4 linked regions of the Homo sapiens genome follow. The protein of the gene in region 1 interacts with the protein of each later gene in a biochemical or structural test. Each region holds a gene or a part of one and is shown on either strand. Other genes may lie near its edges.

What was found.
Region 2: the proteins of CLU (region 1) and CD209 form a complex in vitro, tested with the Homo sapiens proteins (one study listed by BioGRID).
Region 3: the proteins of CLU (region 1) and LRP2 form a complex in vitro, tested with the Homo sapiens proteins (3 studies listed by BioGRID).
Region 4: the proteins of CLU (region 1) and TGFBR2 form a complex in vitro, tested with the Homo sapiens proteins (one study listed by BioGRID).

Annotation. Positions count from the first base shown.
Region 1 is NC_000008.11:27,604,547-27,612,240, reverse strand, and holds part of CLU (clusterin isoform 1 preproprotein), read left to right. Parts: intron 1-489; exon of another isoform or gene 490-640; intron 641-869; exon of another isoform or gene 870-1,095; intron 1,096-1,489; exon of another isoform or gene 1,490-1,640; 5' UTR 1,641-1,669; coding exon 1,670-1,766; intron 1,767-3,154; coding exon 3,155-3,303; intron 3,304-5,716; coding exon 5,717-5,887; intron 5,888-6,905; coding exon 6,906-7,317; intron 7,318-7,694.
Region 2 is NC_000019.10:7,744,411-7,752,158, reverse strand, and holds the start of CD209 (CD209 antigen), read left to right. Parts: upstream 1-4,624; 5' UTR 4,625-4,647; coding exon 4,648-4,693; exon of another isoform or gene 4,694-4,793; coding exon 4,794-4,853; intron 4,854-5,627; coding exon 5,628-5,699; intron 5,700-6,071; coding exon 6,072-6,641; intron 6,642-7,066; coding exon 7,067-7,218; intron 7,219-7,748.
Region 3 is NC_000002.12:169,128,106-169,135,799, reverse strand, and holds part of LRP2 (low-density lipoprotein receptor-related protein 2 precursor), read left to right. Parts: intron 1-3,118; coding exon 3,119-3,226; intron 3,227-6,715; coding exon 6,716-6,787; intron 6,788-6,969; coding exon 6,970-7,137; 3' UTR 7,138-7,694. UniProt on the Homo sapiens protein: Multiligand endocytic receptor. Acts together with CUBN to mediate endocytosis of high-density lipoproteins. Mediates receptor-mediated uptake of polybasic drugs such as aprotinin, aminoglycosides and polymyxin B.
Region 4 is NC_000003.12:30,686,150-30,693,843, reverse strand, and holds part of TGFBR2 (TGF-beta receptor type-2 isoform B precursor), read right to left. Parts: intron 5,461-7,694; coding exon 5,333-5,460; intron 2,425-5,332; coding exon 2,245-2,424; 3' UTR 1-2,244. UniProt on the Homo sapiens protein: Transmembrane serine/threonine kinase forming with the TGF-beta type I serine/threonine kinase receptor, TGFBR1, the non-promiscuous receptor for the TGF-beta cytokines TGFB1, TGFB2 and TGFB3.

The sequences.
Region 1 (7,694 bases):
GAGCATGCTGTGGACTCTAGGGAGTCCCATGCCCTCTCTGGGCTTCAGCCTCACCGCTAGGGTAGAGAGGTTGGGTGAGAGAACGACCTCCTTCCCAGGTCTGAGCTGGATGGTTCACCAGGGACCCCAGGCTCCCTGGAGCAGACTCTGTGCCCGCTGCTGAGTCTGGAATTCCTTTCCTGTATCTTGCCTTTGGCTGCCCCATTCTTCATGGCCCAGCACCCTGTCTTCTGGTCAGAACCTAGTTCTGAATGGGTTTTTCCAGAAGTTGTTGCTTTCAGGGGCCCCTGGCAGAGAGGTGTTTCTGGCTGGCTTTGTCTCTCTGGCATGACAAAGGCTCTGTTCCTGCTGGAGGCATTTCAGGGCTCAGTGGGCAGCTGGGGCAGAGCCCGTGAGACCACAGCCTTCCTGGTGAGCCCGGTCTCCGCCCCCTACCCCATCTCTGGGGAAGGCGCTGACCCCATCTCTTCTCCCACGCTGCTCCCTGGCTCTTTGCGCCTGATTACTTCTCATGAGAGGCACTCCTTGTTAATGTGCTACTGAGTGTCCAGATGGGCCTGCTGGGCTGAGCGGGCTTTGGATGTGAACCATTTCAGGAAGGGGAACCCCATCGTCCTGTTGGTTCTGTGATGGCAAATGGGTGAGCTCAGATAAGCAGTTCTTGGGAGGGGCATGGTGGGGGTGGAGTGCAGGGGGAGGGGTTTCTGTTTTATGCAACAGCCTCAGCTTCTGGGAAAGGGTCCATTGTGTAAGACCGGGGCTATGGCCTGTGCCCCGTGGCTCAGGGCAGCCAGCCCAGTGGTGGCAGGAACACTGGCAGGGCAGCCTGCTGTCGGCTTAGAGGGGATGGGCAGTGTGGAGGGCCTGGCAGAGCAAGAGGACTCATCCTTCCAAAGGGACTTTCTCTGGGAAGCCTGCTCCTCGGGCCACTGCGAACCCTCTCTACTCTCCGAAGGGAATTGTCCTTCCTGGCTTCCACTACTTCCACCCCTGAATGCACAGGCAGCCCGGCCCAAGTCTCCCACTAGGGATGCAGATGGATTCGGTGTGAAGGGCTGGCTGCTGTTGCCTCCGGCTCTTGAAAGTCAAGTTCAGGTGGTGCTGAGACTCCCTGGGGGCTGCAGCGCTGTGGTGAATGGGGAGCGTCTGCTGGGGTGAAGGTTTAGGTGCACATTGCAGAGGACGTGGCTGGTCTCTGGGATGCAGTCCCTCTGTGGAGGTGGCATGGGGAGGGACGGATGCATGACCTAAGGGGGGTATTTTCAGTGTCTGACATGATCGATACCACTCTGGACAAGGAGGCCAGGATGCAGAAAGCCTGTGTGCCTCGCTGATTGTCGGGGAGGATGTGGCTTGGACAAGAGCCTGGTTCCTCCGATGCCAGGGTTCTTGTTTCTTCCACTCAACATTGCTGTCCTGCAGTCCCTCCCTCCCTGCACCTCCTGCCTTCGCTTTCATTCGAGGTGTCCATGGCAAGTCTGGTCATTTCCCCCCATTTCCTCAGGAATAAAAGTGCAGCAGTGCCTGCTGTGGGGACAGCTGAGGGCAGTGAGGCCCTGGGGAGCTGCTGCAGGCAGCAGGTGGGCGGGACGCCAGCAGGCTGTCTAGCTGTTCCCATGATGGTCTCCTGTTCTCTGCAGAGGCGTGCAAAGACTCCAGAATTGGAGGCATGATGAAGACTCTGCTGCTGTTTGTGGGGCTGCTGCTGACCTGGGAGAGTGGGCAGGTCCTGGGGGACCAGACGGTCTCAGACAATGAGCTCCAGGGTGAGTAGACCAAGCATGATGTTCCTCTGGCCACAGGGTGATGAGGTCAGAGGGCAGGGTAGCTAATTCTGCTCAGTGCCTCTCTATCAGGCCCCAGTGTTACAGACCGTTTTTATCTTGTGCACTGGGTCTGGGTGCCTGTGTCTGGGCCCACTCTGAGCCTCAGCTCCGAGGCCCCTGGTTCAGGCTCTGCGTGCATCAGACTGCCGGCATTTGCAGGCATTTCCCAAGCACTTTCGGCTGTTGCATTTCATTCAGCTCTTCCCCTCCCAGGCCCCTTAGCCCAGCTCCCAGGCCTCCTCCACGAAGCTGTGTCTGGACCACCGGAGCTCTTATCCCTCTCCCCTTTGGAGTGCCCAGAGCTTATCCCTCCTGTGAGCTGACGGTTTCTGCAGGATCATTGTTAAAAACCCAGATCAGACATGGGTGTGAGTCTGTTTCACCTCTTCTCAGCTGGGTGACTTTGGGCCACTATCTTGATCTCATGACACTCCCCCCACCCCCCATTTTATTGAGATATAATTAACAAATAAAAATTGTGTATATTTAAGGTATATGACGTGATGTTTTGAAATGCACATACATTGAAATGATGACCACTTTTTATGGTGGGACGGTGGGAAGACTTAAAATCTACTTTCTTAGCAAATTTCCAGTTATGATATGGTGTTATTAACTATAAGCACCACCTGTATGTTAGACCTCCAGAACATACTCCTCCTACCTGATGAACACTTTGACCCTTTATCATATCACACTTCCCATGTCTCCCTCTGCGAAGTGGGCACGGCGGGGGGCTGGAGCATTATGTAAACTGCACATGAAGTGTTTGGCGCAGTGCTTGGCATGGGATAAACACCAGTGAAGTAGCACTTAGGTGACACAGTGTTTCGCTGCATTTGTCACCAGTGCTATACCTTACTCATTTACTCATCTTCTTATTCCTGTCGCCTGGCACTGCATTGGAACAAAGAAATACACATATCTGTTTAAACTGAACTCTAGAAAGATTTGTGTCCAAAATAACAATATTTTATATTTTGATGCTGCAAAGCTGACACTTCTGGGTTTTTTTTTTTCCTTGCCAAGTTTCTTCTGCACCCAGCTCATTCTCCAGGGGCACATGGCAGTGGCTGGGCATAACTCTGGGTGTGCCGGCTCCCATGGTCTGCATTTCTAAGCAGTAGGGTGCAGTCAGCAAGGAGCCTGTGATGGGAGCCTGTGCCAGGGCAAGGCTGGGGCCATGCTGCTGCCTGCTGGCAGGAGTGGGGGTCCCAGCCTTGACAGCCCCTGAACTGAACGGGCCTTTCTGGCCATCCAGCTCATTCCAGGGTCCTGAGGCCACCTCTTCCTCTCGCCTCATTCTGCCTCTTGCACTTCTCTTGCAGAAATGTCCAATCAGGGAAGTAAGTACGTCAATAAGGAAATTCAAAATGCTGTCAACGGGGTGAAACAGATAAAGACTCTCATAGAAAAAACAAACGAAGAGCGCAAGACACTGCTCAGCAACCTAGAAGAAGCCAAGAAGAAGAAAGAGGTCAGGAGGAGCCGCTACCGCCTCCCTGCCTTGACCATCCCACTGGAGGGGAGGGAGGGGGTCACTGCGCGGTGCCCTGCTGGGTTGCCATGGTGACCCGCAGTCCTCCCAGGCTGTGTCAGCTGATGCTGAGGCTGCAATTAAGAAGCAGGGAAGGTTCATTTGCTTCTGAAAGCATCAGGGAGTGAGATCTTGGATCTGGTTTTGTTATGAGCCTGGCCCAGGGCCTAATGCCCAGATTCATTTCAATAGATGTTTCTAAGCCCTGATCACATGCTAGTTCCAAGCAGGCTCTGGATGGGGTGGCGGCAGGGGCCCAGACAGGCGTGGCGTCCAACCTTCAGGAAGCTTATCTAATAGGGGTGATATGGTTAGGGTTAAGGCAGGCACACAGCACCCCACGTCTTGCTAGAGTTCTGGACTACTTCATAAAGAAACATCTTAAGCCCAGTAGTGGATATAGCAGGTCTAGCCTGTGCTTAATGATTCAACAAAACTAAAACACTATAATTCAATGAACAACTTATTTAAGAAATCAAGTCTCCTTAAGAGTATCCTACAAACCTCCTCTCACGGTCGCCCTACTTCAGATGCTAAGATGTAGCTACCTGCAAGCTTCATGATCCATCGTGCATGTTAAAAGCATTTCAAAGGCTCTGAGAAGTTCTGCCGTAAAGAAACCTGTGTAACTCCATGAAACCCAGAGTTTTCCAAACTGACCAGGGAATTCATTTTTGTTTTTGTTTTTTTTTCCTGGCCGCTTTGAGCACAGCTCCATAGGAGCCACTTCAGGGATTGCTGGCCTGGATGTGGCTCTACCTTTTTTTCAAGTTTCATGCCCTTTCTTGGCCTTAGTATCAGTTCTCACCATTCTATGAGAATCCTCAAATAGCTCCTGGGGAAGGGGCATGACTTGTTCTCACATTTTTGTGGTTATCACTGGAGTTTGACATTCAACAATTCTGGTTTTATAATAAAGCACATCACATACATTTGGAGAAAAGAGCCTGCTACTTCTTAGTTGAGGAGTAGGTGAGCCAGAAGGCAAGGAAGTAGGTAGCAGGGGTGGCGCTTGTGTCTTGGCTCAGTGGGAGGTGGGTTGTCCTTGCCCAGCAGGGGACAGGGGATGATGGAGCAGGACAAAGACCTCACCTAACTCTGGGGTGTGGATAGGCTATTTTTTTTTTTTTGAAGACTAACACACTCATTCATAGAGACTTTAATATAGAAAAGTAGAAAAGGAAAAGTTTTTCCATAATCCTTTTGCCCAAGGACAAGTCACTGTTAACATTTGATCTATTTTTCCTATTATTTTCTTCTATGCTTTTTTGACAGTGGCTATATTTAAAATTATGAATTTTTAACATATAATATTCAAAATGGACTATAAACATCCTTTGTAATGATGTACCATCTACCCTTTATATGAACCATAGTTTGTTTAATCTGTCTCTTTTAAGCATCTGGGTTGGTTCTGATTTTTTTTTTTTTGCCATAAGCTAATACTGTTTCAAATATTTTTAAGTATCTTTTTCTTTGTCAGGGGATTCCTTTGAGATAGAGTCTTTGTTTTGTTTTGTTTTGTTTTGTTTTGTTTTTTTGAGACAGAGTCTTGCTCTGTCACCCAGGCTGGAGTGCAGTGGTTTGATCTTGGTTCACTACAACCTCCGCCTCCCAGGTTCAAGCGATTCTCCTGCCTCAGCATCCCAAGTAGCTGGGAGTGCAGGTGTGCACCACCACACCAGCTAATTTTTGTATTTTTAGTAGAGATGGAGTTTCACCATGTTAGCCAGGCTGGTCTCAAACTCCTGACCCCAAGTAATATGCCTGCCTCGGCCTCCCAAAGTGCTGGGATTACAGGTGTCAGCTGCCGCACCTGGCCTGAGACAGATTCTTACAGAATTATTGGGTCAAGTGGCAAGGGCCCGTTAGAGAATTTTGATAGCTGGTGTGGCTTTGGTGCTGAATGCCTGCCATTCCCTTTGCACGCCAGGAGGCATGGTTGCAATAGAAAGGTAAGATTCAGGGAGTCTGCAGCCTGCTTTGGAAGATGAAATTTAAACACCAGAAGCAGAGAATAGGAAATGAGGCTTCAGTGAGAGGGTAGTCATTGAGTAGGTGATCAGAGAGAGAGGTGGTGTCCACATGGGTTCCAGGAGTTGGGAAGCTTCTAGGAGTTAGGGAACAGTTGGATCTTGAAGGATGAGTGGATTCTTTAAGCCAGGTGGGAAGGGGATTCCAGGTGGGCGAATGAGGGGAAGCTTGAACTGGAGCAAGGGTAGGCACTTGCATGCTGGGTGGCCAGCCTATGGGAAGGCCTGCCCTGGGGCAGAGGGCCTGGCACCCAGCAGCTCTTTGAGTGCATGAGCCTGTGGTCTCTGTGTGGCTCAGCCAGCCTTGTGTCTTCCTGTAGGATGCCCTAAATGAGACCAGGGAATCAGAGACAAAGCTGAAGGAGCTCCCAGGAGTGTGCAATGAGACCATGATGGCCCTCTGGGAAGAGTGTAAGCCCTGCCTGAAACAGACCTGCATGAAGTTCTACGCACGCGTCTGCAGAAGTGGCTCAGGCCTGGTTGGCCGCCAGGTGAAAAGGGGACACATGAGTGGCCAAGGCTCTGAGTGGGGAAGGAGGGGAGCCTAGTGAAATATGCTTCATTCCGCATGCCAGATGCAATTGATTAGCATTGGCTGGCTTGCCCAGAGTGCCATGCTCCATTGGTAATGTCTGGCATGAGTAGAGAGAGTGGAGTCATCAAAAGGATGTAGGCCAGGTATCTGCCTTCTCTTAGAAAACTCATGCAGCAGTGCTTAGCTGGATGACATAATAAACTGCTTCGTGGGATGGCAGAGCCCTGTGTCCACTTATGTGGAAGGATTTAAGAATTTTTTTTTTTTTTTGAGACAGGGTCTCACTCTGTCACCCAGGCTGGAGTACAGTGATGTGATCATGTTTCACTGCAGCTTCGACCTCCTGGGTTCAGGTGATCCTCCCACCTCAGCCTCCCAAGTAGCTGGGACTACAGGCACGTACCACCACACCCAGCTAATTTTTGTATTTTTTTTTTGTAAACATGGGGTTTGGCCATGTTGCCCAGGCTGGTCTCAAACTCCTAAGCTCAAGTAATCCTCCTACCTTGGCCTCCCAAATTGTTGGGATTATAGATGTGTGCCACTATGCCCAGCCAATGTAAGATTTTGTAGTATATTAGTGTTGCTCCTGTCCTCTGCTGCAGGGCTTTTTTGATTGGGACTCAGTGAATTGCTCCAATCCCTGAAGTCACATCAGTTGGCCCTTAGCCGAGCGGGGGTGGATATCATTGGTGGCCAAAGATGACAGTGAATGAACCTGAAATGTTGGGCCTTGTGACTTTTGGGGCCTCCCAGGTGTCTCAAAACTGTCCCCCATGGAGGGAGATAAAAGGAAAGAGCATGGACCTGACAGATGGGGTGCTGGGGGCTGGTCCCAGCTGGGCTGTTGGTCACTTGCTGTGTGACTGTTACAGCCATGGGCAGGGCCTGGCCTGGCTCACCAGGGGGTGGGAGGCCAGGAGGCCGTGGCCTTGGTGAGCTTCTCCTAACTGTGCCCATGCTGGCTGTCCCAGCTTGAGGAGTTCCTGAACCAGAGCTCGCCCTTCTACTTCTGGATGAATGGTGACCGCATCGACTCCCTGCTGGAGAACGACCGGCAGCAGACGCACATGCTGGATGTCATGCAGGACCACTTCAGCCGCGCGTCCAGCATCATAGACGAGCTCTTCCAGGACAGGTTCTTCACCCGGGAGCCCCAGGATACCTACCACTACCTGCCCTTCAGCCTGCCCCACCGGAGGCCTCACTTCTTCTTTCCCAAGTCCCGCATCGTCCGCAGCTTGATGCCCTTCTCTCCGTACGAGCCCCTGAACTTCCACGCCATGTTCCAGCCCTTCCTTGAGATGATACACGAGGCTCAGCAGGCCATGGACATCCACTTCCATAGCCCGGCCTTCCAGCACCCGCCAACAGAATTCATACGAGGTGAGAAGGGGTGGAAGCTCATGGCCTTTTGAGCAACTCGTTAGATGCTGAGAACCATGCCGAGGGCTCAGCGGGTGTCATCTCGATTTTTCTCCAGCAATATCACAAGGGTGATATTATCCTTATTTAAAGAGGAAAAAAACTGAGCTGGGCATGGTGGCTCATGCCTGTGATGCCAGCACTTTGAGAGGCCAAGGCGGGAGGATCATTTGAGGCCAGGAGTTTGAGACCAGCCTGGCCAAGATAGTGAGACCCTGTCTCTACAAAAATAAAAACTTAAAAAATTAGCCGGGTGTGGTGGTGCACACCTGTAGTCTCAGCTACTCGGGAGGCTGAGGCAAGAGAGTCACCTGAGCCTGGAAGTTGGAGGCTGCAGT
Region 2 (7,748 bases), on another chromosome or scaffold:
AGTCCTAGTTACTGGGGAGGCTGAGGCAGGAGAATGGTGTGAACCCGGGAGGCGGAGCTTGCAGTGAGCCGAGATCGCGCCACTGCACTCCAGCCTGGGCGACAGAGCAAGACTCCGCCTCAAAAAAAGAAAAAAAAAAAAGAACGTAGTTGGTCAGATGTGCTACAGGGGACTTTGAATTGACTATCTAGCCAAAAGTCTTATTTCCTGGCTCACACAATACTGTGGAGGCGGGGGCAGAGGGGACACTCACCTGTCCCCAGGAGCCAAAATGGCACTGACTGGTCTCCAACTTAGGGCCTGGGTGAAGGTCTTCTCCACCAAGGCCAGGTGCCCAGGTTTCCCAGCTTGGGCCAGCTCAGCTGTCACAGGGGACCAGTAGCCTATTGGCCTGCTGGTCAGAGTGGCTGGTCCCACATCACATGGCACTACAGCCGAATGTTCATCTGCTCAGCTCCATTGCCTGCTAGGGAAGATGATGGTTCTTCAAAGAGTCCTTGGTTAGTGTTACAGCTCTGCAGCTTTGATTACCGTAGTGCTGATGGCTGTCTTGCTGTCTCTCGTCAACTGCTGCCTCTCCGTCTCACCAATCATCATCCTGCTGACCGCTGATCACCATCTGATATCGTTTGGGTGTGTCCCTACCCAAATCTCACCTTGAATCGTAGCTCCCATAATTCCCTCGTGTTGTGGGAGGAACCCAGTGGGAGATAATTGAATCATGGGTGCAGTTTCCTCCACACTGTTTTCGTGGTAGTGAGTCAGTCTCATGAGACCCGATGGTTTTATAAGGGGAAACCCCTTTTGCTTGGCTGTCTCATTCGCTCTGGTCTGCTGCCATGTAAGACTTACCTTTTGCCTTCCACCTGATTGTGAGGCCTCCCTAGCCATGTGGAACCGCCCATTAAACCTCTTTTTCTTTCTTTCTTTCTTTTCTTTTCTTTTCTTTTTTTTTTTTTTTTCACAATCCAGAGGTCTTTTATTTTTTTAACACCTCTGATGCCATGAATTCATAGGGAAGAGTTTCCAGCAGCTCAGCCTCCTTCCCATTGGTTCTCACAAAGCATGCTTCTCTGGGTGGAGCAGGCTGGTGCTTCAGTTGAACCCAGGTACCTTTCTCTTTGGCTTCTTTCTGTTTCTGATTATTTTCCTTCACACATTTCAGGAAGCTATCTCAGCTCTTAGCATGCTTAATGCGCTCAATGCACACATTAATTCTCTCGGCATGAATCTTGCCCTTGTTTGTTTACAACAATGCCAACAGCATGCTGGGTAACATTGTAGACTCTTCCAGTTTTGCCACGGTAACCCTTGTGGTCCATTCCTTTTTGAACAGTACCCATTCCCTTGATGTCTACAATATCACCTTTCTTACAAATTCGCATATACGTGGCCAAAGGAACAACTCCATGCTTTCTAAAAGGCCTAGAGAACATATATTGGGTGCCTCTCCTCTTCCCCTTTGCGTTCATCATTTTGGCAAATTACTGGAAGATGGCAGTTACGGCCAAAAGGCACCTCTTTTTCTTACAAATTGCCCAGTTTCAGGTACGTCTTCATCAAGCAGCGTGAAAACAGACTAATATACCACCTCTCTGTCTTTCTTTCTTTGCCACCACTCCACCACTCTCTGATCACCACCTCTCTGTCTCACTGACCTATCACCGACGGGCGCCTCTTGCCACCTTACCAGTTGCCGTCTTGCTGTCTTGCCATCCCTTGCTGTTTCACCTCTCTGCCAATCACCAATTGCCACTGTCTCTGCTGTCTTACTAATTCTTCAGTGATCCCCACTGTCTCACTGTCTCACTGGCGATCACCATCGGCAGATCGGCAGTGCTGCACCAGTCACTGCCGCTTGCTCACTGTCTTTGTTCCTTCAAGGTCACCAAATGTTGCAGGACAGGTGAACCCCAAAATTGGGGCTTAGCTGGGGAGGGTTCTTGGCTTCGCTCTGGAAAGAATTCAAGGGTGAGCCAGTGATGTCAGACAGAGATTTTTTTTTTTTTTGAGACAGAGTTTCACTCTTGTTGCCCAGGCTGGAAGGCAATGGCACGATCTTAGCTCACCGCAACCTCTGCCTCCCAGGTTCAAGCGATTCTCCTGCCTCAGCCTCCTGAGTAGCTGGGATTATGGGCATCAGCCACCATGCCTGGCTAATTTTGTATTTTTAGTAGAGACAGGGTTTCTCCATGTTGGTCAGACTGGTCTTGAACTCCCAACCTCAGGTGATCTGCCTGCCTTGGCCTCCCAAAGTGCTGGGATTACAAGCGTGAGCCACCTTTTGTTTGTTTGTTTGTTTGTTTTTGACATGGAGTCTCACTCTGTCGCCCAGGCTGGAGTGCAGTATTGCAGTCTCGGCTCACTGCAACCTCTGCCTTCCAGGTTCAAGTGATTCTCCTGCCTCAGCCTCCCGAGTAGCTGGGATTACAGGCATCAGCCACCATGCCTGGCTAATTTTGTATTTTTAGTAGAGACAGGGTTTTACCATGTTGCTCAGGCTGGTCTCGAACTCCTGACCTCAGGTGATCTGCCCGCCTCAGCCTCCCAAAGTGCTGGGATTACAGGCGTGAGCCACCGGTTTTGTTTGTTTGTTTTTGAGATGGAGTCTCACTCTCTCGCCCAAGCTGGAGTGCATTGTCACAGTCTCAGCTCACTGCAACCTCTGCCTCCCAGGTTCAAGCAATTCTTCCGCCTCAGCCCCCTGAGTAGTTGGGACTACAGACACGTGCCATGCCTGGCTAATTTTTTTTGTATTTTTAAAAGAGATGGGGTTTCACCATGTAGCCAGGAGGGTCTCGAACTCCTGACCCTGTGATCCGCCCACCTCAGCCTCCCAAAGTGTTAGGATTACAGGCGTGAGCCACCATACCTGGCCTTAGACAGATATTTTTTATGTAATGATACTGCTCCTTGTGAAGCAGGGCTAACTCATAGGCAGTGCACCCAGAGTCAACAACATACAAGCTCTTGGCAGCTGTAGTTATACTCATGTCAACTCACTTTCAGTTATACGTCAGTTAAGGGGTGGGTCAATGCAAATTGAGGAGCAGGTTCTTTAGAAGTTTTAAGGAAAAGGGCGAAGATGTCCAGGTTGTTTCCATGGAAACAGGTGGGAACTTCTAGGTCATTGCCATGGCATCGGTAAACAGTCATGGCACTGGAGGGAGTATCTTATGCCCACGAGCAATGAGGCAGCCAGGGATTGCTTTTGTTGCCATCTGCTGGTTCCTGCTGGTTTCTTCACATCATCTCATCTGGACCAGATTCTGTATGGGTCTGCAGGGTTGTGGCCAGAAAACAAGTTCTTCCAGTTTCCTACCTCATTACCATGTGAAATGTTACCATTAGGAGAAACTGGGTTCACATTAGGGATCCCTAGGTGAGGGATTTACATATGGGAAATCTCTTTCCTACATTTGCAACTTTGCTATAAACCCAAAATTATTCTAAAATTAAAACATTTTAAAAAAGAATACAAAGTAAAGATCAGGTCGAAAACCACTATTTGATTATGATACATGTATGTATTTTCCATCTTTAAACTGAGATTTAACACACATGTGGTAAATGCACATCTCTATGATCAAAATATAGAACATTTCCAGCATACAGAAACCCCGTTGTCAATCTCCACCTGCTCCTTCCTGATAATTCCCATTCTGAGTCTCCTTCAAAGGTTAGTTCTGCCTGTTCTCAAAATTCACACAAAATCAAATCTTACAGTGTGTACTCACTCTGTCTGGGTCCTTTTACTGTTTTGTGAGATTTATCTATGTTATTAAATGTACTAGTACTTTGCTTTTTCATTGCTGTATAGTATTCCAATCTTTGAATATGCCATTATATTTTTTATCATTCACCTGCTGGTGGACACGGGGTTGTTCCAATTTCAGATCATTCTAAATAAAGCTGCTATGGATCTTTTCTTTCCTCTTTGATACTATTTCACTCTTTGGTTAACAGCATGCACTGTGGAGGCAGACTGGGTTCAAGTCTCAGCCCCACCATCTACCAGCTGTGTGACCTTGGGCCAGTTAGCTAAACTTGCAGTGCCTCCTCAGTTTCCTCATCTGTATAATGGAGGTCATATGATCTACTGAAGGGTAGGAACATTAAATGAATGAGTTTATAAAGCTGTTGGAAAAGTACCTGACTACCCTAGGCATTAAATAAACAAGCAATTATGATTCTGCCCCAACTCCCAAAGTCAGCAGGAATTCCCAAAAATGAGGACAGCAGCAGCTCAAAGCAGGAAAGCCAGGAGGTCACAGGGGACAGTGCTTCCAGGAACTGGGGGTGCTACCTGCCTACCCTTGCCCTAGTGGAGGGGGTGTAACACAGTAGCTTTCTCTTACAATTTATCAGATTTCATTAAAAGCATCCCACTGCTCAGCCATCCATGAGTGGATGAGTCCTTCTCCCTGTCAACCCCAGACCATCCCCCACTGCCTCCCTGAAATTCTTGAAAGATCCGGCCCATCTCATGCTCTGATGCTTTCCACTAGTCTTTTGGATGACAGATCCCTACCCAACTTCCTGTTTCTCTTTCTGTGGGAGACTAGATTTAGGAAGTAAAGATCACAGGGTGGGAAATAAAAGCTGTGGCCCCCAGGAGTTCTGGACACTGGGGGAGAGTGGGGTGACATGAGTGACTCCAAGGAACCAAGACTGCAGCAGCTGGGCCTCCTGGGTGAGGCTGGGTTGGGACGCTGGGATTCTGGGAAGGGGGAAGGGATGGCCAGCCATGGCCTCAGCCTGCCCAGGCTCTGATTTCACGTCTATCCATTCAGAGGAGGAACAGCTGAGAGGCCTTGGATTCCGACAGACTCGAGGATACAAGAGCTTAGCAGGTAGAGAGGACTTAGCAGTTTGGGAGGAGAGACGAGAGACTCCTGGACTCCTGGGTCCTGAGGAGCTGGACGCTGGGGCCTGGACTCTTGGGTCCTGGGGATGTGGGGCTAGGGGCCTGGACTCCTGGGACCTGAGGAGGTTGAGTTTGGGGCCTGAATTCCTGGTTCCTGGGAAGGTGGAGGCTGGGGCCAAGACTCCTGGGTTCTGGGGAGGTAGAAGTTGAAGCCTGGGTTCCTGGGTCCTGGGGAGGTGGGGTCAGGGGCCTAGACTCCTGGGTCCTGGAGAGGTGGGGGCCTGGGCCTGGACTCCTGGGTCATGGGGAGGTGGGGACTTGGGCCTGGGTTCCTGGGACCTGGGGATGTAGGGGCTGGGACCCAGATTCTTGGGTCTTGGGGAGGTGGGAGCAGGTACCTGGGTTACTGGGACCTGGGGAAGGGGAGGCTGGGTCCTGGGTCCCTGGGTCCTGGGGAGGTGGGAGCTGGGGGCCTGGGTTCCAGGGACCTGGGAATGTAGAGGCTGGGGCCTGGATTCCTGGGTCCTGGGGAGGTGGAAGCAGGTACCTGGTTCCTGGGACCTGGGGAAGGGGAGGCTGGGGACGGGGTCCCTGGGTCCTGGGGAGGTTAGAGCTAGGGCCTGGATTCCCAGGTGTTGGAGTGGAGGGGGCTGGGGCTGGGGTTCCTGGGTCCTGGGGTGCTGAGGGATTTAGACCAGGCTCTCCCTGGGCCAGGCTCCGGTGGGGACACTGGCAGGCTGACGCATGTATCCTCTCTCAGGGTGTCTTGGCCATGGTCCCCTGGTGCTGCAACTCCTCTCCTTCACGCTCTTGGCTGGGCTCCTTGTCCAAGGTCAGGGGCAGGTTCTGAGGGTCTGGGGTCCCCACGCCTGGCTTTTGGCTGTGGACACAGCCTGGGGCTGCCAGATCTGGGAGGGAGGTGGGACTGAGAGCCAAGATGTTGTCCCTGGGGGTCTGTAGGGGCCTCTCCCACAGCCCCTCCCCACTCTAGGGCAGGACAGGAGAGGGAGGAGGAGGAGGACAGGAAGAATCTGGCTCTCCTTGGCCTTCTGTGCTGCCTTCTCCAGGTGTCAGTTTTCTTCATCTTCAAAGGGGATTAACCAAGACCTTGGCTCTCACAAATGATGTCCCTATGGGGCTCAGTTCAAGGCTTGGCACACAGTAGGTGTTTAATAATTGCAGTTCCTTTTTTTTCTTGGCCCAGTGTCCAAGGTCCCCAGCTCCATAAGTCAGGAACAATCCAGGCAAGACGCGATCTACCAGAACCTGACCCAGCTTAAAGCTGCAGTGGGTGAGCTCTCAGAGAAATCCAAGCTGCAGGAGATCTACCAGGAGCTGACCCAGCTGAAGGCTGCAGTGGGTGAGCTTCCAGAGAAATCTAAGCTGCAGGAGATCTACCAGGAGCTGACCCGGCTGAAGGCTGCAGTGGGTGAGCTTCCAGAGAAATCTAAGCTGCAGGAGATCTACCAGGAGCTGACCTGGCTGAAGGCTGCAGTGGGTGAGCTTCCAGAGAAATCTAAGATGCAGGAGATCTACCAGGAGCTGACTCGGCTGAAGGCTGCAGTGGGTGAGCTTCCAGAGAAATCTAAGCAGCAGGAGATCTACCAGGAGCTGACCCGGCTGAAGGCTGCAGTGGGTGAGCTTCCAGAGAAATCTAAGCAGCAGGAGATCTACCAGGAGCTGACCCGGCTGAAGGCTGCAGTGGGTGAGCTTCCAGAGAAATCTAAGCAGCAGGAGATCTACCAGGAGCTGACCCAGCTGAAGGCTGCAGTGGGTGAGTATCTGGAACCAGGGCTTCTTGGGCCTGAGATGGTCGTTGTGTGGTGTGAGTTTGCTTGAGTCACTGACCCTGCCTGAGCAAGTTTCCTCATCTGTGAAATGAGAACACAGGGTAACTGTGATCATTGCCCTCAGTGTTCACAGTGGGCCAGGTACACAACAGGCACTCAGTTAAGCCAGTCTCCTGCCTTCTGTTCTGAGTTCTAAAGCCCCAACTTCTCCTAGTCTGGAGGAGATGGGGCCAGGACTCCTGGGTTCTCATGGGGATGGGGGAGGGTCTCGGGAAGTGGGGAGGGGAATGGTCTACCCGGCGTGGACAGTCAAGGAAGGACTCTGACTCTCAAGACCTTGAAGGCTGGGCAGGTACAGGAATATGGACAACCTAATCTAAGCCCAGCCCTGACCAGCCTCCCCCAACAGAACGCCTGTGCCACCCCTGTCCCTGGGAATGGACATTCTTCCAAGGAAACTGTTACTTCATGTCTAACTCCCAGCGGAACTGGCACGACTCCATCACCGCCTGCAAAGAAGTGGGGGCCCAGCTCGTCGTAATCAAAAGTGCTGAGGAGCAGGTACACCTGGTGGGGGTCCCCGTCCTGGCCTAGGGCATGGCTTCTGGCCAACTGGGGAGGAGGTGCTCAGAGATGACTTTGCAGAAGAGGGGTTTTGCTCCACTTGGAAAGAAGGGAGGAGAAGGATATGAATGAGGGAGTCTCAAGTACCCTTAGAGCAGATACAAACCAAATCTGAACATGTGTGAATGCTCCGGAAAAAAACATCAAATGTAAGCAAACCCCTGCAGCATGCTGCAAGAGGTTAACAACCAGCTCTCTGGAGGAAGAAGTCCTGATGGGTCGTGTTTGCCAGTTTCCCTGGTGTAAATATTCCCATGGTGGCTGATTTCAAGCTGTCGTTGTGATGTCACTCAGTGCAGAGCTGAAAGGAGATGTGCATGACCAGCAGTTAGGAAATGGTTGCCTCTGGCTCCAACACATTAAGCCCAGTTATGAGTAAATGTGCATGGACATGCACAGAACATGTGAAATGGATAAACATGCAGTATTAGCAAGAGGGTGTGAGGAGAGGCCAGCTGTGCATGGAT
Region 3 (7,694 bases), on another chromosome or scaffold:
GTCCAAGTTGGTCTGGTGTCTGGAATGAGACTGGGGCTTAATAAAAAGGAGCGTCTATACAGGAGCTTAAATGGCTGTACCCTGTAGCATTCTGAGGACAGGCCTGAATTCTGAGAAGGGCAAGTGGTAAAAGTATTGTCCAGTCCTTTTTAAGTTGGTGGCTGAGCTTGGTGAGGTGTGTTTTTAAAAGACCATTAGTCCATTCTACCTTTCTTGAAGATTGAGGACCGTAAGGGGTATGAAGGTTCCACTGAATACCAAGAGCCTGAGAAACTGCTTGGGTGACTTGACAAGTAAAGGCCGGTCCACTGTCGGACTGTATAGAGGTGGGAAGGCCAAACCGAGGAATTATGTCTGACAGAAGGGAAGAAATGACCGCAGTGGACTTCTCAGACCCTGTGGGAAAGGCCTCTTCCTATCCTGTGAAAGTGTCTACCCAGACCAAGAGGTATTTTAGTTTCCTGACTTGGGGCATGTGAGTAAAGTCAATTTGCCAGTCCTGGGCGGGGGAAAAACCCCGAGCTTGAGGTGTAGGGAAGGGAGGGGGCCTGAGAAATTCCTGAGGAGTAGTAGAATAGCAGATGGAACACTGAGAAGTGATTTCCTTGAGGATAGATTTCCACAATGGAAAGGAAATGAGAGGTTCTAAGAGACTGGCTAGTGGCTTGTAACCTACATGGAAGAGGTTATGAAATGATGACAGAATAGAATGGGCCTGTGAGGCTGGAAGGAGATATTTTCCTTGGTCTAAGAACCATTTGCCTTGTGTGGGAAGAGATTGATAGGTGGAAGTTTCAGCGGGGGACTAGGTGGGAGTGACTAATGTGAAGGAGAAAAACTGACTGTGAGGGACAGAAGTTGGAACGCTAGCTGCTTTTTTAGCTAATTTATCAGCATAAGCATTGTCCTGAGCGATGGGATCTGATGCCTTTTTGATGGCCCTTGCAGTGAATGACTCCAGCTTCCTCTGGAAGTAAAGCGGCTTTGAGAAGCGTTTTTATTAAAGACGCATTAATGATAGAGGACCCTTGTGTAGTGAGGAAACCTCTTGCATGGTGGTGCAGGATATGGAAGGCATATATAGAGTCAGTATAAATACTGACATGTAGTCCCTTTGCAAGAGTGAGGGTTTGACTTAAGGCAATGAGTTCGGCTTGCTGAGAGGTAGTGGAGCGGGGCAGAGCGGTAGCCTCAATGATAGATGTGGAAGATACTATAGCATAGCCTGCCTTTGCTGGTGAGTGGCGATTAGGCCTGGTGGAACTGCTATCAGTAAACCAAGTGTGTTCAGGGTGAGGAACAGGAAAAAAGGAAATATGGGGAAATGGGGTGAATGTCAGGTGGATCAGAGAGATACAGTCATGGGGGTCAGGTGTGGTATCCGTAGTAATGTGGGAGGCTGGATTGAAGTCTGGGCCAGAAACAATGGTAATTGTGGGAGACTCAACAAAGAGTGAGTACAGCTGAAGGAGCTGGGGAACAGACAGTATATGCGTCAGGTGGGAGAAAGAAAATAGATTTTGGAAGTTATGAGAACTGTAGAGAGTGAGTTGAGCATAGTTTGTGATTTTTAGGGCCTCTAAAAGTATTAAAGCAGTGGCAGCCGCTGCACGCAGACATGAGGGCTAGGCTAAAACAGTAAGGTCAAGTTGTTTGGACAGAAAGGCTACAGGGCACGGTCCCGGCTCTTGTGTAAGAATTCTGACTGCACTAACCATGCCTAGGAAGGAAAGGAGTTGTTGTTTTGTAGAAGGGATTGAGGTTTGGGAGATTAGTCAGACTTGATCAGCAGGGAGAGCATGTGTGTTTTTATGAGAATTATGCCGAAATAGGTAACAGATGAGGATGAAATTTGGGCTTGACTGAAGTAATGGGGGCTGTCTGTGAAGCTTTGCAGCAGTACAGCCCAGGTAATTTGCTGAGCCTGATGGGTGTCAGGTTCAGTCTAAGTGAAAGTGAAGAGAGGCTGGGATGACGGGTGCAAAGGAATAGTAAAGAAAGCATGTTTGAGATTCAGTCCGTCATCTTTAAGAAGAGCTGGGAGATGAAATAGGAATATAGGTGAAGGGAATAACTTTACATAAGGTCTGCATCAATAGCCCCAGCGCCACTTTTACTGCTTGTCAACTGCGAACATGTATCTCCTTTGTCACAACAACTATGGCCTTAGTGACAATGAATAACTGTCATTGTTAACACCTAATGCTCCTTTTGAACTCGAGATATGGCACATTTTAATACAGAAACTAGAAATGTTTATTTTACAAATATTTTGTGATTTTAAGATCGGAAATGTTTAAATCTTGAAAGCATTTTCCCTGATCCTCTGATAAACAGATATGAAAACTTTAATCACATGATAAAAGAGATACGACATTTCATTTGACATCTTCACTTAAAATAAAATGAGGCCATGTATACAAATGCATATCCAAGTTTCAGAATAAACAAGTAATGAATGTGAAAATATAGGAAAAGGAGTGAATTGTCTACCTTGTAGTTTATTATGCATTCATGGTAATTTGGTCTTAAAAGGGAACCTTGGAATTGTATGAATGTTATAGAAAAATGCGTAGAAGATTATTAATTCTATCATTCTCATCTTTTCAAAAATTCAACCTCTTTTTAGTAGTACTATGAAATCTTAATTTCCGAAGATAGGATTTATTAATATTCAAAGAAATTATTAAGATCCAAAGATAGGATTCTCAGTTCATCAGTGAGGTTGGGGAATTATTCTTGCTGTTCTTCTAGGATTTGGCTTCCAGTATATAACTAGAGTATGATTATCCAAAAATTTGGTCAACAGTGGGAGTAAGAAGGTATAGAGAATACAGTAGAAATTGCTAGTAATAAGTGAGAGTGTGACCAGTGAGGGATGTATTTGCCTCCCAGGATTAAGGTATGAGGTGACTTAGTGGTTGCTGCTCTTGATTTTGGGGCGGTGGGAGTGATGTTTAGTCCTGGCCTACTGGGTCATGCAATAAAAATGGTGCCTGATGATGTCTGTGGGAGAACAAGATGGCAAAAAGAGCCAGAGTTGGTACAAACTTTACAGCAAATTTATTTACTACTAAATTCTTTCAAAATTGGGTAAAGGCCTTTAACATGTCCACAGGTGACTGTATCTGAAAATGTGGATAATAAGAATTATGGAAGTCCCATAAACCCTTCTGAGATAGTTCCAGAGACAAACCCAACTTCACCAGCTGCTGATGGAACTCAGGTAACAGTTGCCGACTCCTGAAATAATGTGGGATTTGGAAAAACTTTGGGATGACTGGGTTTTTATTAACCTTAAGCAAACAAGGGAGATTCTGGAAGGCTCAAAGATCTCAAGATGTGTTGACAGTTAATAAATATAATTTTTTAAAAAGTCATAGATTGAAAAACTTTCCACCAAATAAAGCTACATTCTAACATCGAGTTGGGAATAATGTTCCTTGTAACATAGGAGGACATGTCACAAAGAAGAACAAATAGACTTCTGGATCCAGTATCTTCAGACCAGAGACATTTAAGTTGAGAAATTGACTCAGTATGAATAAAGATTTCACGGTGTCAAAGATACAGATGAAAGATCCGTCTGTGTGTGCCGTGATTTCTCTACAGCATGCATCTTTATTCTTTCAAGCTGTTCTTCGCTCTCCTGCTATTACAGATCTTTACCACTAGATGGCACTAATTTTTCCATTCATCATCCATCTATTCATTATTGGCCAACCAATCATCTAACTAACGTTATTCCCCTCGATGTGTCAGGGATGGTGTTTAATACTGGAGATTGAAAGAAAAAAATGCCACTAGATGGAGCTTCTTAAACATGCCTGCAGGTCCTTTGCAATTGGTACACTATTTGGTCTGCAGGAAGAAATTCAATAAATATATTTGATATTAAACTCTGTATTAATGTATATCATTAGTTTTAATGAATGCATTTGCAGCTATACCAGATATAGCTGTTTGAATCTGGACAAACTGTTTTACTTCTGGGGCTAGAGTCCTCAATAATATTTCTCACTGGGGGCGCTATTGGCATATTGAGTGGGACAGTTCTTTGTGCTACAAAACTGTCCTATGCACTCAGGGAATTTCAGTATTTCTGGTCCCTGTCCACTAAATTCCAGTAGTGTCTCCCCTAATTCAGTGTGACCCCAGAAATCACCTCCCCTCCCCAACACATGTGCACTCACTCCTGGTTGAGAACCGCTAGGATCTGGAATGTCTCTGTTCTAAGATTCTATGACCAATTTTGTGAAGTAATGTAAAGAAATGAAAGTCTAAGAGTAGTTGGAAATTTTACCATTTTATACAATCTTTATTTCTCAAATTTCATAGTCTATAAACATTGATATCTTGGTAACTTGGCAGTCTCATTATCACCTTAAACATTGGTTTCTGTTCTGCTGATTTAAATCAAAATAAAATTTGACCTAAATTGATGCTGAGAAGAGTCTATATCAAGGCTTCTGTACACCTTCTCAAATTCCCTTATTTCTTCTTCTCATGTCACACACACACACACACACACACACACACACACACTCATACACTCACAGACATACATAAATATTGTCTAGAAAGGAATTTTCAGTTTCAGATTTTTCAAGGGACTAAACATTTTTTCTTTAAGCTATATTAAAAATGGATTTTGAAGATTAATTTTCCACAGACACACGGATGCTTGAATGTCATATATTTGGTCCTCCAAGCCTGAGTCAACCCCAAGCTAGTGCCAGATTTATTTTATATTTTCAACATTTTTTCTCAGTCCATCTCTAGTCTAGTGATCTTCTTCACTAAATAGACATTTTCCCCAGCTGGTGCAGGAAGGGGACTGTGGTGGGGAGGCTGTAACCTCTGATCTGCATGTCTGTTATCAGAAACAAAATGTAAACTGACAGTCTCTTTCAAAGGAGAGCAGATCTTCACCAATTGTAGTCCTTTCTTTCTCTTCCCTTTTGTAATACCTTGGTTCCTCCTCTTACTTTTTTACATTAGTGAGGCTGAGACCCTCTAAAATGTGTCTTCCATGTTATGTCCAGGGATCTCACTGTATTTCTTCCCTCCTGGGCACTGAGTTAACAGCCAGCATGCTTTAAAAGCAGTAGAGGCGCTTGGGTGAGATCACCTAGGTTGATTTGAATATGCCAGAGTCCCACAAATGTATCTTTCATCCATAAATATGTTGAAAGACTAACAATTAAAAACATGGGCTGGGCACGGTGGCTCACACCTGTAATCCCAGCTCTTTGGGAGGCCGAGGTGGGTGGATCATGACATCAGGAGTTCAAGACCAACCTGGCCAACATAGTGAAACCCCATCTCTACTAAAAATGCAAAAATTAGCTGAGTGTGGTGGCATATGCCTGTAGTCCCAGCTATTCAGGAGGCTGAGGTGGGAGGATTGCTTGAACCCGGGAGGCAGAGGTTGTAGTGGGCCGAGACTGTGACACTGCACTCCAGCCTAGGCGACAGAGTGAGACTTCATCTCAAAAAAAAAAAAAAAAAGATTCAGTTCTATCATTTTCCAAAAGTTACATTGATATGCATAGGATCCCCCAAGGAGACAAAAATGAAAGTCACCGTCCCTTTCCTCTTGTTAGTAATTGCTTAACTTCAAGTTAGCCATTTCATTTTGAAGCAATGACATCTAAGAGACTTTGGCCCGCCCCACTTAACTGTAAGCGCCCAGAGGCAGGGCTCTGACCTGAATGTCTTCATGTTCCCCTTGGGGGCACTATGTACAAAGCAGGTTCTCACTTGAATGTGGGTTAAAGTGAAGACCTCTTCTACTTCTGTAGCCCTGTGTTCCCCACTCCTCCACAGGCTGGTCCCCTGCTGTCACAGAGTAAGAGACACCCCATAAAACCTGTGGGCTCCCTCAGCTCCTGTTGAGAGTAGGCTGTCTGTTCCCTTGTCTCCCACCAGGTTTTTATCTGGCAGTCAGCATGACAGGCAACTTTTCAGTAAAGCGTGGGCCACGCACCATGGTCCAGGGTGATTATCTTTGGGTTCTCCAGTTTATGGGCCTCTGGGTCCCCTGAGTAATCATTACCTGCCCTTCTACCTGCAAGTTAGTTGTATAATCTTGCTGTGACTCAGCAAGTATAGGATAATAAGTGTACCTACCTCTGGGGTTTGTTAAAAAAAATCAGAAACTTGTAAAACTCTTAGAATAGTTCCTGACACATAGTAAGCACTCAATAAATGTTAGATGTTTTTGTTATTATTATTGTGACACAGGAGGGAATGATGAAGGGAGAAGGGATACTCTTGAGTTGACCAAAGAATGTTACTTTAGGGAATAAGAGTTACAGTTTGGCTTTGCCATCTCCACCCAATTTTCAGGCAGCCCCAGAAATCTCTTTTTCTCCAGATGCATCTTGTGCATGTCTGTTTTATGTGTTCTCTCTGTACTGAGGTAACCAGGTGATTTGCTTGTAGATACTATGGCACAAATTCTATAATATATAAATTTGAAGTCAAAGAAGTGTTTAAAACCATTCGATTAAAAGAGCCCAGAGTTTCAGTTACTGTTCAGGGACCATAGGAGGAATTGAACAATTTACCATATGGGCTGAATCACATGGTCCCAGGTCCCAAATTGCTTTACCCTTCAGTAAGAAGAAATTTTAAAACTGAGACAGGAGGAAAAGAAACCCACAAAATAATTCCATTACTGAGAGGTTTTTGTTTTCCCCTTTTCATTTAGGTGACAAAATGGAATCTCTTCAAACGAAAATCTAAACAAACTACCAACTTTGAAAATCCAATCTATGCACAGGTAATTTTTAACAATTTTTCTTAGCACAGACATTTTTTCTTAGAAATTATTTGCTTGGTTAAATTGGACACACACTTAGATTATTCTGAGCAGAGTGGCCACAAATAGTCTTCTTTATGAAAAACCGTGTATGGTGACCTTGGGGGAATAAATGGCTGATTCCTGTTACATTGTATTCTTAGATGGAGAACGAGCAAAAGGAAAGTGTTGCTGCGACACCACCTCCATCACCTTCGCTCCCTGCTAAGCCTAAGCCTCCTTCGAGAAGAGACCCAACTCCAACCTATTCTGCAACAGAAGACACTTTTAAAGACACCGCAAATCTTGTTAAAGAAGACTCTGAAGTATAGCTATACCAGCTATTTAGGGAATAATTAGAAACACACTTTTGCACATATATTTTTTACAAACAGATGAAAAAAGTTAACATTCAGTACTTTATGAAAAAAATATATTTTTCCCTGTTTGCCTATAGTTGGAGGTATCCTGTGTGTCTTTTTTTACTTATGCCGTCTCATATTTTTACAAATAATTATCACAATGTACTATATGTATATCTTTGCACTGAAGTTGTCTGAAGGTAATACTATAAATATATTGTATATTTGTAAATTTTGGAAAGATTATCCTGTTACTGAATTTGCTAATAAAGATGTCTGCTGATTTGGTTGGTGATCATTATAGTAAATGATCCAACAAGAAAAGGAATTGACTGGGGACCTTTAGCCGTGTCTAAAGAAGAGGCACCACTCATATTTCCTATAAAATTATCTAGGAAAGGAATCCAGGCCCCGCTCTTGGGTCCATTTTTACACATTAGCACTTAATTAATGTTCAATATTACATGTCAATTTGATTAATGGCTATGTTGATAGGGGCCACTATGTGTTGTATAGACATCTGGACT
Region 4 (7,694 bases), on another chromosome or scaffold:
AAAAACATAAACAAAACAAGCCACAGTATCCTCTGACACTACATTCCAGTTTATGCTGATAACCCAGAAGTGAGAATACTCTTGAATCTTGAATATCTCATGAATGGACCAGTATTCTAGAAACTCACCACTAGAGGTCAATGGGCAACAGCTATTGGGATGGTATCAGCATGCCCTACGGTGCAAGTGGAATTTCTAGGCGCCTCTATGCTACTGCAGCCACACTGTCTTTAACTCTCAGCCCACCCACACTGAGGAGGGTGCCTAGAGGTTCTATTTCCAAACCTTTGCATGTATCTTAAAAATCTCAATAAAATGAGACCTTCCACCATCCAAACAGAGCTGATATTCTCACTACCAGTCCCTCTCTAATATTCCTATTTGGCTGAAAATAAGTAGCTTCAAAAAGTTTTAAAAAAGAGATTACTTGCAGCATTAACACTTCTTTGTTGATTAACAAGTTTCCTATGGAGTTTTAAAGCTCATACTTTGTTCTTGTCCTTGTGGACACAAATTTTCTAACTGCAAATGGGACCTTTGTGTCCCACATTCAAATCCTCTCTAGTAATTTCTGCAAAGGTTGAGAAGGCTGGCATGATGGAGAGAACGGTAACCATGAGGAAAGCTTCTTGGAGTAAAGCACTCCTCTCTCCAATGCAGAGGGTAAAACTATTAACATATAAGCAAAAGAAACTTGGGCTAACTGAGACCCTTAAAGGAGTTCCCCTTTAGTCCAATAAAAGGCCAACTTCAAATCTTAACACCAGATAAGGTAGTCAAAATCATATTATATACCCAGAGAATGACTGCTTGAATGGACATTTCTTACAAGGGACCTTGGTTAGGTGCAGATTTAATTCCTAGACTGGGGTCCAGGTAGGCAGTGGAAAGAGCTAATGTTTACAGTGAGAAGTGAGGCAGCTTTGTAAGTGTCTCCACACCTTCACATTTTGTGAACGTGGACTGGAGATAACTGAAAACCATCTGCTATCCTTACCTGGGGATCCAGATTTTCCTGCAAAATCTCCAAATATTTATAAAGTGGCTTCACTTTTTGAAACGCTGTGCTGACCAAACAAAACATATGTTTAGAGTGCCTGAGGTCATAGTCCTGACAATGATAGTATTGTGTAGTTGAAATCCTCTTCATCAGGCCAAACTGTGCTTGAGCAATCAGGAGCCCAGAAAGATGGAACCCATTGGTGTTTGTATAGAAAACTAGAAAATCAAGTCAAGTGTAATGAAAAAGTAAACACGATAAAGCCTAGAGTGAGAATTTGCTCCTTTTTAGAAAAGGATGAAGGCTGGGAGCAGAGAATAGTAACATAAGTGCAGGGGAAAGATGAAAAAAAGAACAATTTTTCATTAGTAGATGGTGGGGCAATCGCATGGATGGGGACATCTGTTCTGATTTTTCTGCAACCCATGAAGGTAAAAAGTGGGGTTCAAAACATTCAAGGTATTAAAGATGGGGTAGAGTTTCTAAACTAGGTTGAGGGAGAGTTTCTAAACTAGCCCCCCAGATTTGGGGCTTGGAGCTTAAATGAAAAGTCCAGGAGAAATAAGGGCACACAGGAACCCCGGGAACACTGGTCCTCAAACAGTGCCACTGTACTTAGTTCCATGGCCAGAAGAGAAGTGCTAGGCAGGGAATGATTATTTTGCAAAAGCAAGTGCAATGTGGTCATAGCTGGCTGTGAGACATGGAGCCTCTTTCCTCATGCAAAGTTCACTGTTTTACAGTCAGAGAACCACTGCATGTGTGATTGTCAAATGCTAATGCTGTCATGGGTCCCTTCCTTCTCTGCTTGGTTCTGGAGTTCTCCAATAAAACCAATTTCCTGGGAATATTTGATGTTTTTCCTTGTCTCTTTTCAAGGTATGGCTATATATATAGAGCTATAGACATATATAGATATATATATATATATATAAAACATAGCTATTCATATTTATATACAGGCATTAATAAAGTGCAAATGTTATTGGCTATTGTAAAAATCAATCTCATTTCCTGAGGAAGTGCTAACACAGCTTATCCTATGACAATGTCAAAGGCATAGAATGCTCTATGTCACCCACTCCCTGCTGCTGTTGTTTCTGCTTATCCCCACAGCTTACAGGGAGGGGAGTGACCCCCTTGGTTTTCCAGGAAGCATCAGTTCAGGGGCAGCTTCCTGCTGCCTCTGTTCTTTGGTGAGAGGGGCAGCCTCTTTGGACATGGCCCAGCCTGCCCCAGAAGAGCTATTTGGTAGTGTTTAGGGAGCCGTCTTCAGGAATCTTCTCCTCCGAGCAGCTCCTCCCCGAGAGCCTGTCCAGATGCTCCAGCTCACTGAAGCGTTCTGCCACACACTGGGCTGTGAGACGGGCCTCTGGGTCGTGGTCCCAGCACTCAGTCAACGTCTCACACACCATCTGGATGCCCTGTAGCGGGAAAGAGATCCAAAGGGCACCATGAGTTGGTGGGCTCCGCGGAAGGCAAGGTGGCCTGCTGACCTTGTTGCTATAGTGAGTGCAAGCAGGGTCCAAAAGTGCCTGTGCATTTAACATGTGCTGACTGAGTGCCTGCTGCTGCAGGCCAGCCAGTTCCATGTGGAAAGGGTGGTGGGGGGTTTGTGCTGGTGGCAGCTGTGCTCAAAACCTACCATACTTTTTGGCTCTGGTGCTATCTGATCACAATAGGTCCTGACAGCACAATGATCCTCTGCTGGGCTTCTGGGGTACACTAACACTCCCAACACCTGAAAATTCCCCATGTAGTGGCCCTTAATATCATTTCAACACCTTTCTATTTAGAGAAGTTCTCGCTTCACAGCAAAATTGAGTGGAAAGTACAGAGAGTTTTCACAAAACCCCTTCCCCATAAAGGCACAGCCTTCTCCACCTTGACATCATGCATGCATCTATGAGGTACATTTGTTATAACTGATGAACTAACACTGACGTATCATTATCAATCAAATTCATAGTTTACATTAGGGTTCACTCTTGGTGTTGTATATTCCAGGGGTTTTGACAAATGTATAATGACATGTATCTACCATTATAGTATCATGCGGAATAGTTTCTCTGCCCCTCAAATTCCCTGCATTCCACTTATTCATCCCTCCCTCCATTCCCCTAAATTTCTGGCAGCCACTGATTTTGTACTGTCTCTGTAGTTTTTGCCTTTTCCAGAGTGTCATATAGTTGGGTCATATACACTGTTCTATTTTAACAGGGCTGATTACCCCCGTCAGAATTGTATGCAGGCATTAGCATGGTTTCATTTTCTATAGGCCACACATTTTGTAGAGTGATTCAGTAGCAGCTTCTACGAGCTGCCAAGGATGACCTCTGGGATGCTCCATTCCTCTCCAACAACATTGGGTTGAACCCTGTGAAACAGCTGCCTATGTGGGTCAGGCATGCTTAACTCTATGCCATTTCCTAGGGTTCACCCTAACCGAATCAAGCTCCCATCCAAGGAGACCATCCAGGAGATCCTGCCCAGGAAGGTGGCAAGAGTTTTCTCTCACTGGCTTAATTTTTATTTTGCATTGCAAATATTTTTGTTATCATTTCAAATCCTTTTTGGAAATAAAGCAGGCAGGAGTTAAGTAAATGGTCTGATAGGTGGAAATAGAGTGTGCTCCTCCCAATTGTAAGATCAACATTGCTAATGGGATCCCTCACACAGGTGGCTGGGAGTGGGATGGATAAATCTCAAAACTACCTGGGAGAGCTGGCACTTTTTCTACTTGTTTTCTAATACCAACAACTTTCCAAACACACCTAGGAGCCTATCTCTCCCTCCCCACCCGATGAGTTCATGATGTTAAATTAATTGCATAATTCACCTAATTGACAGTATTGACAGATGGCCCTGTTAAGAGTAGAGTGCTATTGTTGGTACACAAGTAACATTTATTTTATTCTGGCACTGTAATTACAGGCAGTAAATTAAATTAAATATTAAGCATTAACTTGAAATCAATAGGGCAACAAATCTCATTATGAGAAAAAATGTATTATGCAAATTCTTTTCAGAATTTTATCATCATGAATAATGGCATCATTACGAGAACTATACAGCAGAGGAGGCAACAGAGTTTGAAAGAAACATAACACTCCAGCACATTCTGATTTCAGAATTTATGCAAAATATTCTTACAGTTTTAGTGTCAAAGAGGATTTGCTCAAAACTCCAGAGAAGCCTGTGACCCACCACAGCCTGGTTCCCCCTCGCCAACCTCCTCGGACTTTATTAAGGTCTGTCTGCTGAAGTGGCTCTGGGCCAGGACTGGCACAGACCAGACTTCCTGCTCCATTTGTCTTCCCGATTGTGCCTGATTTGTTGTTTCTGTTTCTTATCTGAATTTGCCTTGCCCTTAGGGAAACCAACAACTTAGCCTCGGCCTTCATGGTTGAGGGAATTCATCCAAAAGAGGCAATAAAAGGTTTTAGTCAGTAGAAAGAACAGTCTTCTCAGTGAGATAGGGCCACACTGTTCTCTCTCATTCTTCACTAAGGGCTCCTTCCTGGGTGTGTCAGACATATAGCTGGTTCTGACTCACTCACAACCTATCGTTTTCTTTTTTCTCTGACCATTGCCCTCATCAAAGTGCCCCCAAACAAACAATTTGGATCAGCCTCTTTATGAGTCCAGAATGACTGCCCTGCTATGGACAGCCTTAGCTAGCATTTCTTAACAAGGAAAAATAAGAGGCCATTAGGATGTTCCCAACAGACAGATTTCTCGTTCCTTCCAGGGCATTCTCCTCTTCTTTGCTTTCCTTAATTCCAGAGTGAGGAGTCGGTCTCCTCTTTCCCACGCGTGCTCACTCAGGCCTCTCCCAAGTCTGTGAGCACAGCCTGCAAACACCTGTACACAGCCTTCTGCATGCCACAGTCACTTCTCACTACAGCTGCCTGACAAACCCTGCTTGTTTTGCATCTGCTAAGTATTTCCTTATGGAGCTGAAGATTCCCAGAAGAAAACATTTGGAATCCAGAGGGAATCAAATATAAACTCCTGACGTGAAGGCCCAGGAGTAAGTAGCAGAGGCTGCAAACAAAATGTTTTAACCCAGGACCAAGGGGGCTTGGAAAATGTGGCAAATGTCCTCCGAATGGCTATTTGTGAACTCTCAGAGTACATATCAGCTGGTTGGAGCCTATAATAATTGGGTTATCCACTGTATTGAAATTTGCTTTATAAACAAAATTTAACAGGGCCATAGAACACAATGGGACCTTCCCTCAGATTTAAGCTCAATATTCCAGAATTCTCTGCCACCTAAGAGGCAACTTGGTTGAATCTTACTGACCTTTGTAAACACTCACTCCTTACCTGGTGGTTGAGCCAGAAGCTGGGAATTTCTGGTCGCCCTCGATCTCTCAACACGTTGTCCTTCATGCTTTCGACACAGGGGTGCTCCCGCACCTTGGAACCAAATGGAGGCTCATAATCTTTTACTTCTGTGAAGAAAGCCAGCAAACACAGGGTCACTGAGAATGGCATGTGCAGCCAAAGGAAATGAGCATGGTGAGATGCCTGGCTGGGGAGCATGAAGCACTAAGTAACAAATACATACGTAATTACTCTAAGAGCAAATTTTAATAATAATGGCTAAGATAAGAAGGAAGGAGTGGTTGGGGAAGGGCTAGAGAAGTATTCAATAAATGATTGTTGAGTACTTAAAATGTGCTAGGTGTTACGCTGGGGGACACAGTGGACAACAAGATAGAGAGGGTCACGGAGCTTAGGTTTTAACACAGGCATTTTCTACAGGGGGATATTGCAGCAAAAGGGTGAAACTGGTTCTTGGGAAGTGGAAAAATCTTATGTATTACAATGGTTTGTGAGCCTCCAAAGGCCCAGAGTATACAAAGAGATTTAAAATGTGGTATTAAATTTCATGTAGGTATTGAGGCATAAAAAGGAATGAAACTCTGGCACATGCTACAACATGGATGAATCTTGAAGACATTATGCTAAGTGAAATAAGCCAGACACAAAAGGACAAATATTGTATCATTCCACTTGTATGAAGTACCTTGTACAGGTATATTCAGAGACAGTATAATGGTGGTTGTCCAGGGGGCAACCTGGGAGGAAAGGGTACGAAAAGTTATCCTTTAAGGGGTAAAGAATTTCAGTTGAGCAAATTTCAGTACAGAAAAATGAATAATGGTGATGGTTGTAGAGCACTGCGAAGGTACTTAATGCCAGTAAACTGTACACTTAAAAATGGTTAAGATGGTACATTTTATATTATGCCTATTTTGCTACAGAAAAACATCATGGAGAGTAGTGTTTAGAAAAAAAGTTGTCTACAGGCCAGGTGCTGTGGCTCATGTGTGTAATCCCAGCACTTTAGGAGGCTGAAGGAGGATATCTTGACTCCGGGAGTTTGAGACCAACCTGGGCAACATAGCGAGATCCTCTATCTATACAAAATAAAAAACAAAACAAGCAAACAAAAAAAGTTGTTTAAAAAGGCTCCTTACGATATCACTGATTTTAAAAAAGGTTGAGAAATGCTGTTTTAGTGGGAAGACAGAGGGGACAGATTAACAACATCAACAAAATTTTAAAACGATAATTTTCCTCTGATGGTATATTCAATAAAGAAAATGATAAAGGAGGAGGTAACCCTTCACCGGGGCCTCAGGCTTCAACTAAGGTCAAATTCTTTATAAAAACTTCCTTGAACATCCTTAGGGTCAATCTTGGTTAGATATCCTGGGCAGGGCTCTATTCGTGCATATACCATATTTTATTTAATATATTCACCTGCTTATTTTTCTCACCTAACTGGACTGTGAGCATTTGGGTGCAAGTTGAGTCCCTTTCTCATTCTTGTATTCTTGGTGCCAATTGCAAGGGTCTCCCATGCCAACAGGCTGTCAACAAATGCTTTGTTGAGTGAGTGAATGAATGAATGAATGAATGAATCTTAGATTCTCTCCAAAGTGGCAGTGCATAAACTCTGGCCAAACATTAAAACAAAACACCAATTTAAATGAGCAGATTAATATAGTGTAAACAGAGCACAGGACACTTAAAAAGATAGAAAACATCCCAGTACTAAAACATGCCTGGGCTGAAAGGAGAGATTGGGCTGGATTCAACACTGTTCTCCAAAGTAAGTAGGATCTTTGGCCTTTAGCTTCAAAATAATCTTATTTAATGAGTAAAACTTTCAATACATTTGCACTTCTAGGTAACGAATTGAAGAAGCTTTCATGGCAAGATGACATTTTGAAAAGGGACGGCTTGTTTTTGTTCTTTGTTCATTTGCTTTTTTCCCCTTTTCCAGAACTCTACTTGAATATTTATCTTTTTCAGCTTCACCAAATAGTAGAGCTGCCAGGATATTTTCTTTTTTATAGTTTTAAATACAGGGGAATTTGGGATGAAGGCCTCCCATCACATTAAGACAAACCACAAACTATCCTCCTGTGTGTCATGCTTTTTGCCTCAAAGGACCCAAGCATTTAATCCACATTGCTCTTGGGTGAGATCTGAATTGTGATTTGCATAGCATTTATACTCTTATTTTTTTCTTTCATTCCTTATCTTCAACCAGACTGTAAATGCCTAAGGCACAAGGCAGTGGCTGAATTTGGTGTCTTTCACTTATCTGCTCAGTGCCTAAAATCGTGCCTTATACGTAGTAAGAATTTAATAAATATGAGTTCGGTTGAAT